Linked DNA regions of Homo sapiens: region 1 is linked to region 2. Evidence: fine-mapped expression QTL. A gene starts in region 2. The other region holds a variant in brackets. All regions are shown on one strand. Distances are from middle to middle.

Region 1 (5,363 bases), 85 kb before region 2:
TGGCCTCAGCGGGGAAGAGTGGTGACTGTTTTGTCTGCCACGGATGACGAGGCGGGGAAAGGAGTCCAGAGCTATGAGTGGGCCACCAACAATCCAGACCAATCCCCTCCCACCGGACAGGTCGCAAAACTGAAGCCCACAGAGGAGGGGACTTGCCCTGTCACTCAGCTCGTTAGTGGCAGGGCAGGATGATAAGCCACTGTCAACTTGGACACTGAGGGGATGAGATGCAGCCACGTGGGCACGGGGGAGATGGTGGTGATGAGAAAGTGACATCTCCCACTCCGTTCAGTTTGACCTCATCCTCGAAGCCCCCCCTCCCCAGGCAGGTCGGCATCCCCATTTCAGAGCAGGGGCTCGGAAGCTCAGAGAGGGAAACAATGGGCCCAGGCTCTCCTGGGTAGTAAGGAACTCTGACAGCAGCACTTACAACCGCCAGGTGACACTGCCCATCACCCTGGATGGTGAGGCCCCGCCGGAGGCCTCAGGAGGAGGGGATTCTCAGAAGGATGGGGGCTCAGCGCAGGGACGAGCTCTGCCAGGAAGGCCCTCTCCCAGCCCCACCTAGCCCTGGGCTCACCTGGCAGGGCAGGGCTGGGGGTTGCAGGTTTCCAGCGCCACAGCTGGCTGCTGGGCCCCTGCTCTGCACCGGGCTGGGGGCAATGTCTTCAGGAGGCTGCCCTGGGCCTCCACGCAGCGCACTGGCCGCTCCCGCAGGCCACCCCCACAGGAGGCGCTGCATGGGCCGAAGTCTCCCACCGCCCAGCTGAGGAAGGAGACAGAGCGTCGGGACCCTGGCCAGGTCCCAGGCTGGCCTGGGGTGATGGGGTGGCAGGTGCTGATGTACTCCCCCGGTCTGGGACAAGCAATGGGCACTACGGCCAGCCTAGCCTCTCCAGGTGTTCCCAGGCTGCCAGACGGCTGAGCCTGAGGACAACCGAATCACAGGCTGGTGAGCAGCTGCCCTGTCCTGCACCCAGCAGGAATGGCCTCGTCCCTAACAGTGTGCCCCGTCAGGTGTGGTGACAGCCAGGGGCTTTGCACCAGGAGCTCCGCAAGTCTCCCTACAACCCTCCAGGTAGGCAATCACCTCCATCTCACCATGAGTACCTGAGCTCAAGAGAGGCCTCGGTGGCCCAGACAAGGTGGCAGCAGGTGTGGGTCCCACTGGGCTGACATTGTCACCATGTCTGCCCCAAGCCTCAGTGTCCTCACCTGCAGAATGGGGGCACTCACAGAGCCCCCCTTGCAGGGCTGTGGGCAGGGGTAATGAGAGCCTGCACAGGAGCAGCTCAGCCCGGCCCTGCCACATGGGCCCCATAGGCCAGGGACAGAGCCCAGCAGCCCCAGCGGAACCCTCTCTCCCCCTTGGAGCTGCGCAGACAGCACCACACTCACTAGGGAGGGCAGGGTTCGAGCACGCAGGCCTCTGGCCACGCTGGTGGCTGCTGGCTCCCTTGGCACTGGACAGTCTCCACCAACTCCTTCCTGGCCTGGTCCAGGCAGCTGTAGTTTACCCAGCGCAGCCCTGGGAGGGAAGAGGGAGGGCTAGGCCGCCTCCCTGCAGGGGCAAGCCGTGCTGTGGATGAGCCTTCCCCAGGTCTCACCTGCCCCACAGCTCACCGAGCAGGGCCCACGCACAGCGGCCCACACCCAGGCCTGCCGTGGCTTAGGCTGGAAGTAGGTGAAGGTGATGTCTGGGCGGGTGAGGTTGCCATACTCCTCGCCATACCGCCTGTAAACCTGCAGACAAAGAGCTTCAGGCCTTGTCCAGTGGGTTCCCTGAGGGTCACTGTCATGGCCACCTCCCCTGGGAAGCCTTCCAACTTCTTCTTGCATCCCTATAATCTTTCGTTCAGCAAGCAATCACTGGCCAGGCACGGTAGCTCATGCCTGTAAACCCAAAACTTTGGGAGCCTGAGGCAGGCAGATCACTTGAGCCCAGGAGTTTCAGAGCAGCCTGGGCAACATAGCACTCCAGCCTGGCCAACAGTGAGACCCTCTCTAAAAAAACAACAAAGACAAAAATAACGGGAAGCAATCACCAACACTGACCTGTACCAGGCTCTGGGGATAGCACAGTGCACAGGACACTGGCTGAGCTGCAAGGAGCTCTCAGTGGGTTGGGATAGAGGGCTCGGGGAGGTAATTACCAAGTCATTGGTGGGTTACATGATAGGGTATTTGGGCAGCACAGAGAAGGTTCCCTAAGCTGGCTGGGTAGAGGATAAAGTGCAGTGGAGGAGGCAGGCCCACCTTAGGCTGGGCTAAGGAGCCCAAGAAGGGCTAGGGCAGGGCCAGCACAGAAAGTGCTTCTGGAGCCAGAGCTGAGGCCCGTAGGGTCGGCAGGAAGAAACTGGATCCCTGGGGACCTGTGGTAGGGTCGGCAGGAAGAAACTGGATCCCTGGGGACCTGTGGCCAGCTACTGGCTTGGGACTGGCCCGGAGAGCACTAGGAAGAACTTCAGCAGGTTCCTGGGCCTAAGGCTCTTCAGGAGGGTAACTGGGTCCTGTGCCCAAGACCAGCCCAAGAAAGAGGCCAGCCTGGAGGCCAGAGCCCAGGGCGAGGTGACATTCCGCACCTGCCCCCTCGATGCCCACATCTGGCCAGTGCCGCAAGCCTGTGTTGGTTACGGTGCGGTTTCTCAGGCCCAACACAGGGAAGTCCTGATTCAGGGAATATGCAGAGGACCCGGGAATCTGCTTTTTTACACACTGCAGAGGATGATGG[G/C]AGAGCCACTCGGCAGCTAGCATCTGGATACAATGTCCCAGGCAAGGGGAGGGGAGGAAGGGAACCATATCAGGGGAAGAGAAGGGATAAGCCGCTCACAGGGGCTTGCTTTGGCCCGGCCTGGCCTGATCTGTGGGAGGCCCTCCTGTCTCTGGCTGCTGTAGGGGCAGAGGACGCTGCTCCGGCCGCTGAGACTGGGCCCCTCTCCCAAGGTTCTCAGGTCTGTTTCAGCCTGCGCTTATGTCTCTCCACCCTCCACGTGCCTTCCTCAGCGAAGCACCAATGGGGACATACATGGGCGAGCACACGTCACTGAGGACACGCCTGAACAAGGCCTTCCGGTTCCCACACACACTGCACCAAAGAAGCAGTGAGAGCCAGCATCTGTTCTCAGCTTCCTCAGCACCAAGGCCTACTCCCCAGATGCCACTGCACCTGCGTCCATGCCTTCATCTCCCCACAAACCCACACAGTAGGACCTTCCTTCATCCCTCCCACACTGACACTGTTCCCTCAGCCATACGCTTCCTTCCCTGCTTGGCCCAGCAACATCTGCTCATCTGACACCTCAGCTCCATCACTCTTTCCCAGGGAGCCCTGGACCCCTGCATTGGGCCCTCCAACCTTACCTGATCCCAGAACTGCAGGGCCTTCTCCCACGGGCTCTGGGCACAGGCACATTTGGATATTTGTGGGACCCTAAGCCCCTGGAGGAGCTAGCTACATTTTGCCTAGCACAGGGCCCAACACATAGTGGGTCCCCTGTAAGTGACCGCTGAATGAATAAATGAACGAATCAGGGAATGGATGGATAGACAAACGAGCAAGCAGCCATAGCCCCCAAGAAGAAGCCCCCACTGGCCTCCCCCAGGCTCTCCTGCTGACCTGGATGTCAGCATCTTCCTGGAGGGGTCCCCAGATGCGGATCTCCTCCAGGCGGGGCAGCCGGTCCTCGGTGAGGGCCACTCTGTACTCGACACGACCATCCTCCAGGAGGGAGGGGTAGGTGGTGTTAGGGGAGATGCTCATCTTCCCAGCCACGACATAGCGCCCTCCGATCCTCACCGCTGTCGGGGAACCAGCCCTGTTAGCTGTGTGGAGCTGAGCACCCATCCTCCTCACAGGCACATGTCAGTGACTCTCCTTCCCGGGGTCCCCAGCCCTCCTCTAAGGAGCCACAGGCATCTGAGCTAGAGGCTTCCCCACAGCGGAGGCTCTAGGCCTCTTTCCACAACCTGGTGAGTGCTATGACCAAGTGCACTCACGCACAGAACTCAACAGGCTCAGGGCTCAGGGACCCCATGGCAAGTGCCGGCAACCAAGGCTTCAAAGGTTAGGTGCAGACACACTCCAGAAAGACCCACTGTGGCCCTCAATAGCAAAGAAGCGGGCCTTGCCCAAAGAGAAGTCCAGCTTTTGCTGTTGGCTTCCAAGAGGAAACACGGGTCACACCAGGCAGAAGTGTCCTCCTTTAGGGCAGGGGCTGGCTGTACCAGAAAGACCAACTATGTGATTTAGGATAGGGGCTGGGTCACCAAGAGACTGAGAGTATCCACCTGGCCAATTAGTCAATCATGTCTTTGCACTCAAACCCCAGGAAAAACTCTCAACTCCCACTCAGTGGGCTTTCTGTGTGGGCAATACTCCATGCGTATGGCCACGCTCCAATGCTAGAAGGGTGTCACATCCCTGAGACATCAGGCCTCCTGGTTGGACCCTCCCAGACTCTGCCTACATCTCTTCCCTTGGACAATTCTAACCTGTGTTCTTCTGGAAGGAGCCGCAGCCATGTGCCACAGCTCTCAGTGAGCTCTGGGAGTCTTCCTAGTCAACTATCAAGCCTGAGGGTGGTTTGGGGAACCCCCTGAACTTGCGGGTGATGTCAGAAGTGAGGGCATCTTGGCAACAGTGCTCTGCACCTTTGCAGTCTAGCTAACTGGGTGGGAGTCCTCCAGTCAACTCACCCAAGTGTGTGAAGAGAGGCCTGTGGTTGGCAATGTAGACACTGGTCAGGTTGGGGGTAACTGTCAGAAACGTGACATATTCTAGAAAGAAGAAAAGAAGGAGAGATGCGTGGACCTCACAGCCACCACACCACAGACAAAGGGAGCTGATCTTAGCTGGTCGGGAAAAATTGAACAATGCCATGGGGCTGGCTCCAGCAGCAGTGAGTCCCCTGTCATGGGGGCAATTAAAAGCAGGCTGGAGGACCACCTGCCAAGGCTCTGCCCTGGCTGGGAGAAGGGACCGGGTCCAAGGTTCTCCAGCACAGTGGGGCAAGCCAGAGGGAGGCAGGGCTCAAGTCTCTGCTCTCCATAGAAGCACTGGCATTTGCAAATGGTTTTTGACCTCATATATACACCAAAGTCAAAGATTTTCCAAATGTAACTACCAACCCTCTCATTCACTTGTGTCCCTCTCAGTGGGATTTCTTGAGCAGGAGAGAAGAGGGTAGCTGCCACAGAATGCACAACGTCCATACTTTTTTTTTTTTTTTTTTGAGACAGTGTCTCACTCTGTTGCCCGGGCTGGAGTGCAGAGGGATCTCGGCTCACTGCAACCTCTGCCTCCTGGGTTCAAGCAATTCTCCTGCCTCAGCCTCCTGAGTAGCTAGGACTACAGGCGCCCGCCA
Region 2 (5,299 bases):
CCTCACTGGAGTCACCACCGTTGTCCCCTTGTATATTGGAGGGTCTGCTGGGGCTTGCCCTCCAGCCCAGCGCAGCTACCATCATCATCCCTCATGGGCTGCATGAGCCCTGCTGGGCCCTGGCCATTGATGTGGCGGCCCATCTCCAGGGCTGTTTCCCTCCTTGTCTCTGCCACCCACCCCCATGGCCATGCAGCAGCCTTGTCACCACCAGAACGTGAAGGCAGAGCCCCCTTACAGCCACGTTTGGACTTCCCTGGACCACTGCCTTGCAGTGACCTCGGCGCCCCAGTCCCATCTCAGCTCCACAGTCCACCATCATAACCATTCTTCATGGGAACCCCGTGGCCCCCTGCACTTAGAGCCTTCCTGCCCACCCCTGAGCAGCTAACACACTGGCTGGAAAAAGTCCAAGCCTCAGGCTGGCAGCCCTTGTGCCTGCAAGGCCTCTGCAAGGTGCCCGCCTTCTACTTGAGAAACCCTGGTCCTGCCTTCTCAATCCACACTCATGCTTCGGGAGGGCTGGACTGCCTCTCCGCACTCATCAGAAGCCCGTAGACGCATCTTCCCATCCGCAAACCAACCTGAATCTGTCCGCTCCAGCCTCTGTCCATTTCCCTCCTTAGCTGGACTCCAGAAAGGCTTTCTGGTGACCCAGCACCTGCCTAAGGCCGGACACTGCCCTCATGGGCTGCAGCCTACGCTCCACTCTAGCCAGGTGTCCCTGCCAAGCTTCAGGTGCCTCACCAAGGTTGCCAGGGGCCTCTGTGTTATCAAATCTATCATTTTTCTGTCCTCATCTTCCCTTCAGTACCACGGGAGGACTTCCAGCCTCTTCCTGGGGCTCAGGACCAGGCCTCTCTCCCTTCTCTAAACTCTCGCCGGGTGCTCACCCAGATCCACGGTGCAACCATCTCCTTCATCCAGCACGGGTGTCCCTGTTTCAAAAGCCCGATACTTCCCTAATACACACCTTTCCTAATACAGCTCAAGCTTAAAACCTTCAAAGGGACTCTGAATTCTCCCCCCAAAACCCACCGTCTTTTCCTGGATGACCGCAGTCAAGGAGTCCTCCCTTCTCAACCATGCACACTGTCCATGCAGCCCCCACCCAACCCTCTCCACACACCCACTGCAGTGCTCCTGGCCTGGTCTCTGGGTCATCCGGGCTGTGCACACTAGCCCAGCCAGTCCTTTGGAGCCTACCTCAGCCAACACATTTTTGCCTCAGACTTCCATGGACCCTGGCTTCTCCCTGGGGTGCTGTTCCCCCGACCCCACTGCCACCACATCCCTCCAGCCTCAGCCTCGAGCGAATCCCTCAGCGAGTCTCCCCAGCCCTCCTGTCTCCGCAAGCCCACCCCACATCCCTCGCCCAGTTTCTTTCACACCTCGCATTGCCACGCACACTCACTCACTCCCGAGCCTGCTTCTGGCTCTGTGCCTGCCTGCACTAAAAGCTGTGGGGTCAGGGGCCATCATCCCTCTCTTCACTGTGCCAAAAAACAGGCCTGATGCATCAACACGGATCGCTGAAGGACGACCTGCCTTCAAGCACGCTCCATCTGGGGCAAGGCGGGCATGCACTCAGATGGCGATGCACTGATGGGGGTCCACTGGGACTTACATTTACACAGAGCTCGCTGGTACCGCCGGCCCTGGGTGTGCCTCAGCACGTGTTCTGGGCACTTGTTGATGTGCCGCAGGGTGAGTTTGCAGAACAACTGGTGCCTACAGAGCAGAGAGACCAAATTTGTAGGGACAGTTCACAGCAAGGATTCAGACTGGTGGCTGTGTCTTGGACTCATCCCTGGACAGTCTACCATGCGGCTTGGACATCGGGCTTTTAAAGGCTCCCGGAGCAATTCCACTCTGAAGCTGGGTGGGGAACCGTCTGACCCAGGCCGACTGCAGCCTCTTAATGTTTACCGGAAAAGCACGCATGGCAGCCTCACTGACTGCTCCAGGATGAGTTCATGCAAGAGGATGGCTCCACCTGGAGCAAGGGCTCAATGAATGGAAACATCCTATCTCTGTTTTGACGATTATTACAAAGCCTAGCTCCCAGCTAAATCAAAGACCCCTTCTGGGGTTAAGGGAAGAACCCAACGCTGTTCACAACCTCAGGTGACAAATCACAAGCCTCTACTCATCTGGGAAGCAGCCACACCCCACAGGACAAACCTCAGGTGAGCAAACGAGCTCACCAAGAGGCCTCGCCGCTGGGACCGCAGGTGATTCCAGCACCCGGGCGCCCACCTGGGTCCCAGGGCTCCCAACTCTGAAAGAGTAGGGGCTGCAGCACTGGCGGAGTCCAGCGGAGGGGCTGTCCTAATTGCCCTGGGCCTCCCCGCGCCGCCGCGGACCACCTACGGGTTCTTGGTGCTGGGCACGATGTGCGGCTCGAACTCTGCATAGTCGAAGGCCGGGGAGGCGCGGACCAGCCGCTGGTACTTTTTGCCGCGGGTGTAGACCTGGAGCTCCGGCAGGCGGCAGGGCAGCTCGTGACCTGTCAGGATGCACCTCACCTGCGGACGCGTGGGCGGGCAGGACGTCAGGAGGGCCAGGGCTCCGCTCCCTGGTGCCCCCTCCTGCCGCGCCCCCTTCCCTCTCCTCCCCTGATCCCGCCGCGCCCTCTCCCCTGCCCTCCCCTCTCTCCTGCTCTCCCCTCTCCCCTCTCCCCTGCCCTCTCCTCTCCCCTGCCCTCCCCTCAGCCCCTCATCCCAACTGCGCCCTTCTCCGCCACTCCGTTCCCCTCCCGCGCTGCGAACCTTGCGGGCGTCCGTCTGGAGCCGCAGGCTCGGGTGCTCCCGCAGAAACGCCCGCACGTCGCCCGGCAACTCGCTCATGGCCGACGCGCCCGCGGAGCAGCCCGGCGGAAGCCGCTCGCAGAACCTGGAGCCGGGGGCGGGGCTCTGGGCGGGACTCAGCGGCGCCCCGGATGCAGATGCTTCCTGCGTCCCGGAAGCGCCCGCGGGGCCGGGTGCGATGGCGGCGGTGGCTGCGTTGCAGCTGGGGCTGCGGGCGGCGGGGCTGGGACGGGTGAGCGCCGGGTGCGGGGTGCGGGGTGCGGGGCGCGGGGAGGGGTCCCGGAGCTCAGCCCGCCCGTCCGTGTCCGCAGGCCCCGGCCAGCGCCGCCTGGAGGAGCGTCCTCAGGGTCTCCCCGCGCCCAGGTGAGGGCTGCAGGCCGGGCTGTGATCCAGGCGCCTGGGCAGAGCCACCTGCTGTCTGCCCTGCACTTTGAAGGGTTGTCGTGGGGATTGAAATGAACCAACTGCCGGCTGAGCGGAGGCTCCCTGGGAGTGACAAGTTCCGTATTAAAATGCTTTCAGTGGAATTGTGGTCGTGTGCCGGGCATGTAGCGAGCGCTTTGTCCTCACAACGCGAGAGGTAGCTCCTTGGTCGTTCCCCTGTTACAGAGAAGGCTCGAGAGTTACTTCCGAACGTCCCATCCAGCTAATGGGTGGCCAGCCCAGGCTGAAAGCCCAGGGCTCTGAAAGTAAAGCGTATCTAACCACCGCGGCTTACGTGTTCCTCTCAGTGTGCAGCACAGGGCTGTTTTGCCGTGTGTAGAGTGCTGTGCAAGCCTGCCCCAGGCCTGCCTTTTTATAAAAAAAAAAAAAAAAATAGTATCCGCAAGGCCCCTGGTGCTTTTCAGCGGATGGAACTCATCCTCTGAGAGCTTAAAGGCACTTTCTGTGTACATTCTTCCCTCTTTACATTTACGATGAGTTGTAAAAATGGAAAGCTGTTAAGAGAGCTCTGTGAGCCATTACTGAATTGATATATTTTTCTACATAACACAACAACCACTAGTGCCTGACTAAGCTACTTAGTAACTGTAGCTGCTTATTTTTTATTTTTTGAGACAGTTTCGCTCTTGTTGCCCAGGCTGGAGTGCAGTGGCGCAATCTCGGCTTACAGCAACCACCTCCTCCCAGGTTCAAGCGATTCTCCTGCCTCAGCCTCCCGAGTAGCTGGGATTACAGAAGCACCATCGTGCTCAGCTAATTTTTGCATTTTTTTGTAGAGATGGGGTTTCTGCATGTTGGTCAGGCTGGTCTCGAACTCCTGATCTCGTGATCCGCCCGCCTTGGCCTCCCAAAGTGCTGGGATTACAGGCGTGAGCCACCGTGCCCGGCCAACTGTAGCTGCTTATTAAATGCATTTTGAATGGATGAATGGTGCATCTTAGTGCAGTGGAATACATCTAGATTCTTGAGTAAAAAGGCATGAGTTACTCAGGGTCGTGGTTGGTGGTCAAACCGGCACTGAGCCCTAGATCCCACTTACTCACTTGGCAGACGTACTGTGTGTGCCTTGTTCTGGGCACCGGGTTAGGAGCTGGGCTGGATACAGGTGCTGCTAGTTGGCTCTAGGCAGCAGGTTTTGATTGGCAGTACTGGAGTCTGTCTTGGAACGGGCTGCTCCAGGTCTGTGTTCGAGGGCTTCTGGCTCCATGTCAGTGTTGTGAAACTCTCCAGGGGTGGCCTGGAGGCCAAGCAGATGTGGCAGTTCTGCAGCAGAAGCATCTGCCACAAAAGCGGAAGATGACTCCTTTCTTCAGTGGGTCCTGCTCCTCATCCCTGTGACTGCCTTTGGCTTGGGGACATGGCAGGTAAAGACCGGCATCTGGTGTGCGTAACTCTGGGCCCTTGACCTTGCTGCCATCTGCTTGGCCTTATGCTCTGTCACTGTAGGTCCAGCGTCGGAAGTGGAAGCTGAACCTGATTGCAGAGTTGGAGTCCAGAGTTCTGGCTGAGCCTGTCCCTCTGCCAGCCGAGTGAGTGCATGGCTGCCCCCCTAGGGCCTGTTTTACTTGAGTTCAACAGCAGAGCCCTGGCTTCTGCTGGCCAGCTTGCCCCTTTTGGTGGGACTTTTAGTCACTGCCTTGACCTCAGGTGGGAGCTCTCATTATCAGTCATCTGTTGGGCTTGCTGTTGACACCTGACTGCCCTTGTGAAGCTACCTGAGACCGCCTCCTGACATATGGAGGAAAGTCTTATTTTGAGTCCTGGGTGTCACCCTTTTTTCAGGTATAGTAAACTTATCCTCCACAGGGCCCAAGGCCCTGTGGCTGAGGACAGATAATGTAGGTCTCACCGTGAGGGTGGTCGTTTGAAAAAGTGCCCTGAATGATTTGTCTGCTCTCTCCCTAGAATATGCCCTACAGAGATAGGTATATTCAGCCACATTTTCCATTCAGGGTAGCAAACAGTATGCCAGATTTGGCTTGCAGATGGGGTTTTGGCCCACATATTTTTTAAAATTTCACATAAAATATTCATTGAGGAGTCCA

The links. PIP is the estimated chance that this variant, and not a neighbour inherited with it, causes the effect.
Region 1: its variant is fine-mapped to the expression of SURF2 in visceral fat (GTEx, PIP 0.97).

What each region holds. Positions count from the first base shown.
Region 1 is chr9:133,438,779-133,444,141 of GRCh38, reverse strand. ADAMTS13 (ADAM metallopeptidase with thrombospondin type 1 motif 13) reads right to left here. Exons shown (of 29, transcript NM_139027.6): 15 at 4,696-4,776; 16 at 3,617-3,798; 17 at 1,608-1,743; 18 at 1,399-1,528; 19 at 581-766. Among named protein-coding and RNA genes, the nearest start is that of CACFD1, 19 kb to the left of the region's middle. The variant G/C (reference allele first, on the strand shown) is at 2,732.
Region 2 is chr9:133,354,143-133,359,441 of GRCh38, reverse strand. It overlaps SURF2 (surfeit 2), which reads right to left and starts at 2,892. Exons shown (of 6, transcript NM_017503.5): 1 at 2,772-2,892; 2 at 2,374-2,528; 3 at 1,628-1,731. The coding sequence starts at 2,849. It overlaps SURF1 (SURF1 cytochrome c oxidase assembly factor), which reads left to right and starts at 2,955. Exons shown (of 9, transcript NM_003172.4): 1 at 2,955-3,042; 2 at 3,122-3,173; 3 at 4,485-4,618; 4 at 4,701-4,783. The coding sequence starts at 2,989. RefSeq lists silencers at 2,724-2,793, 3,034-3,153.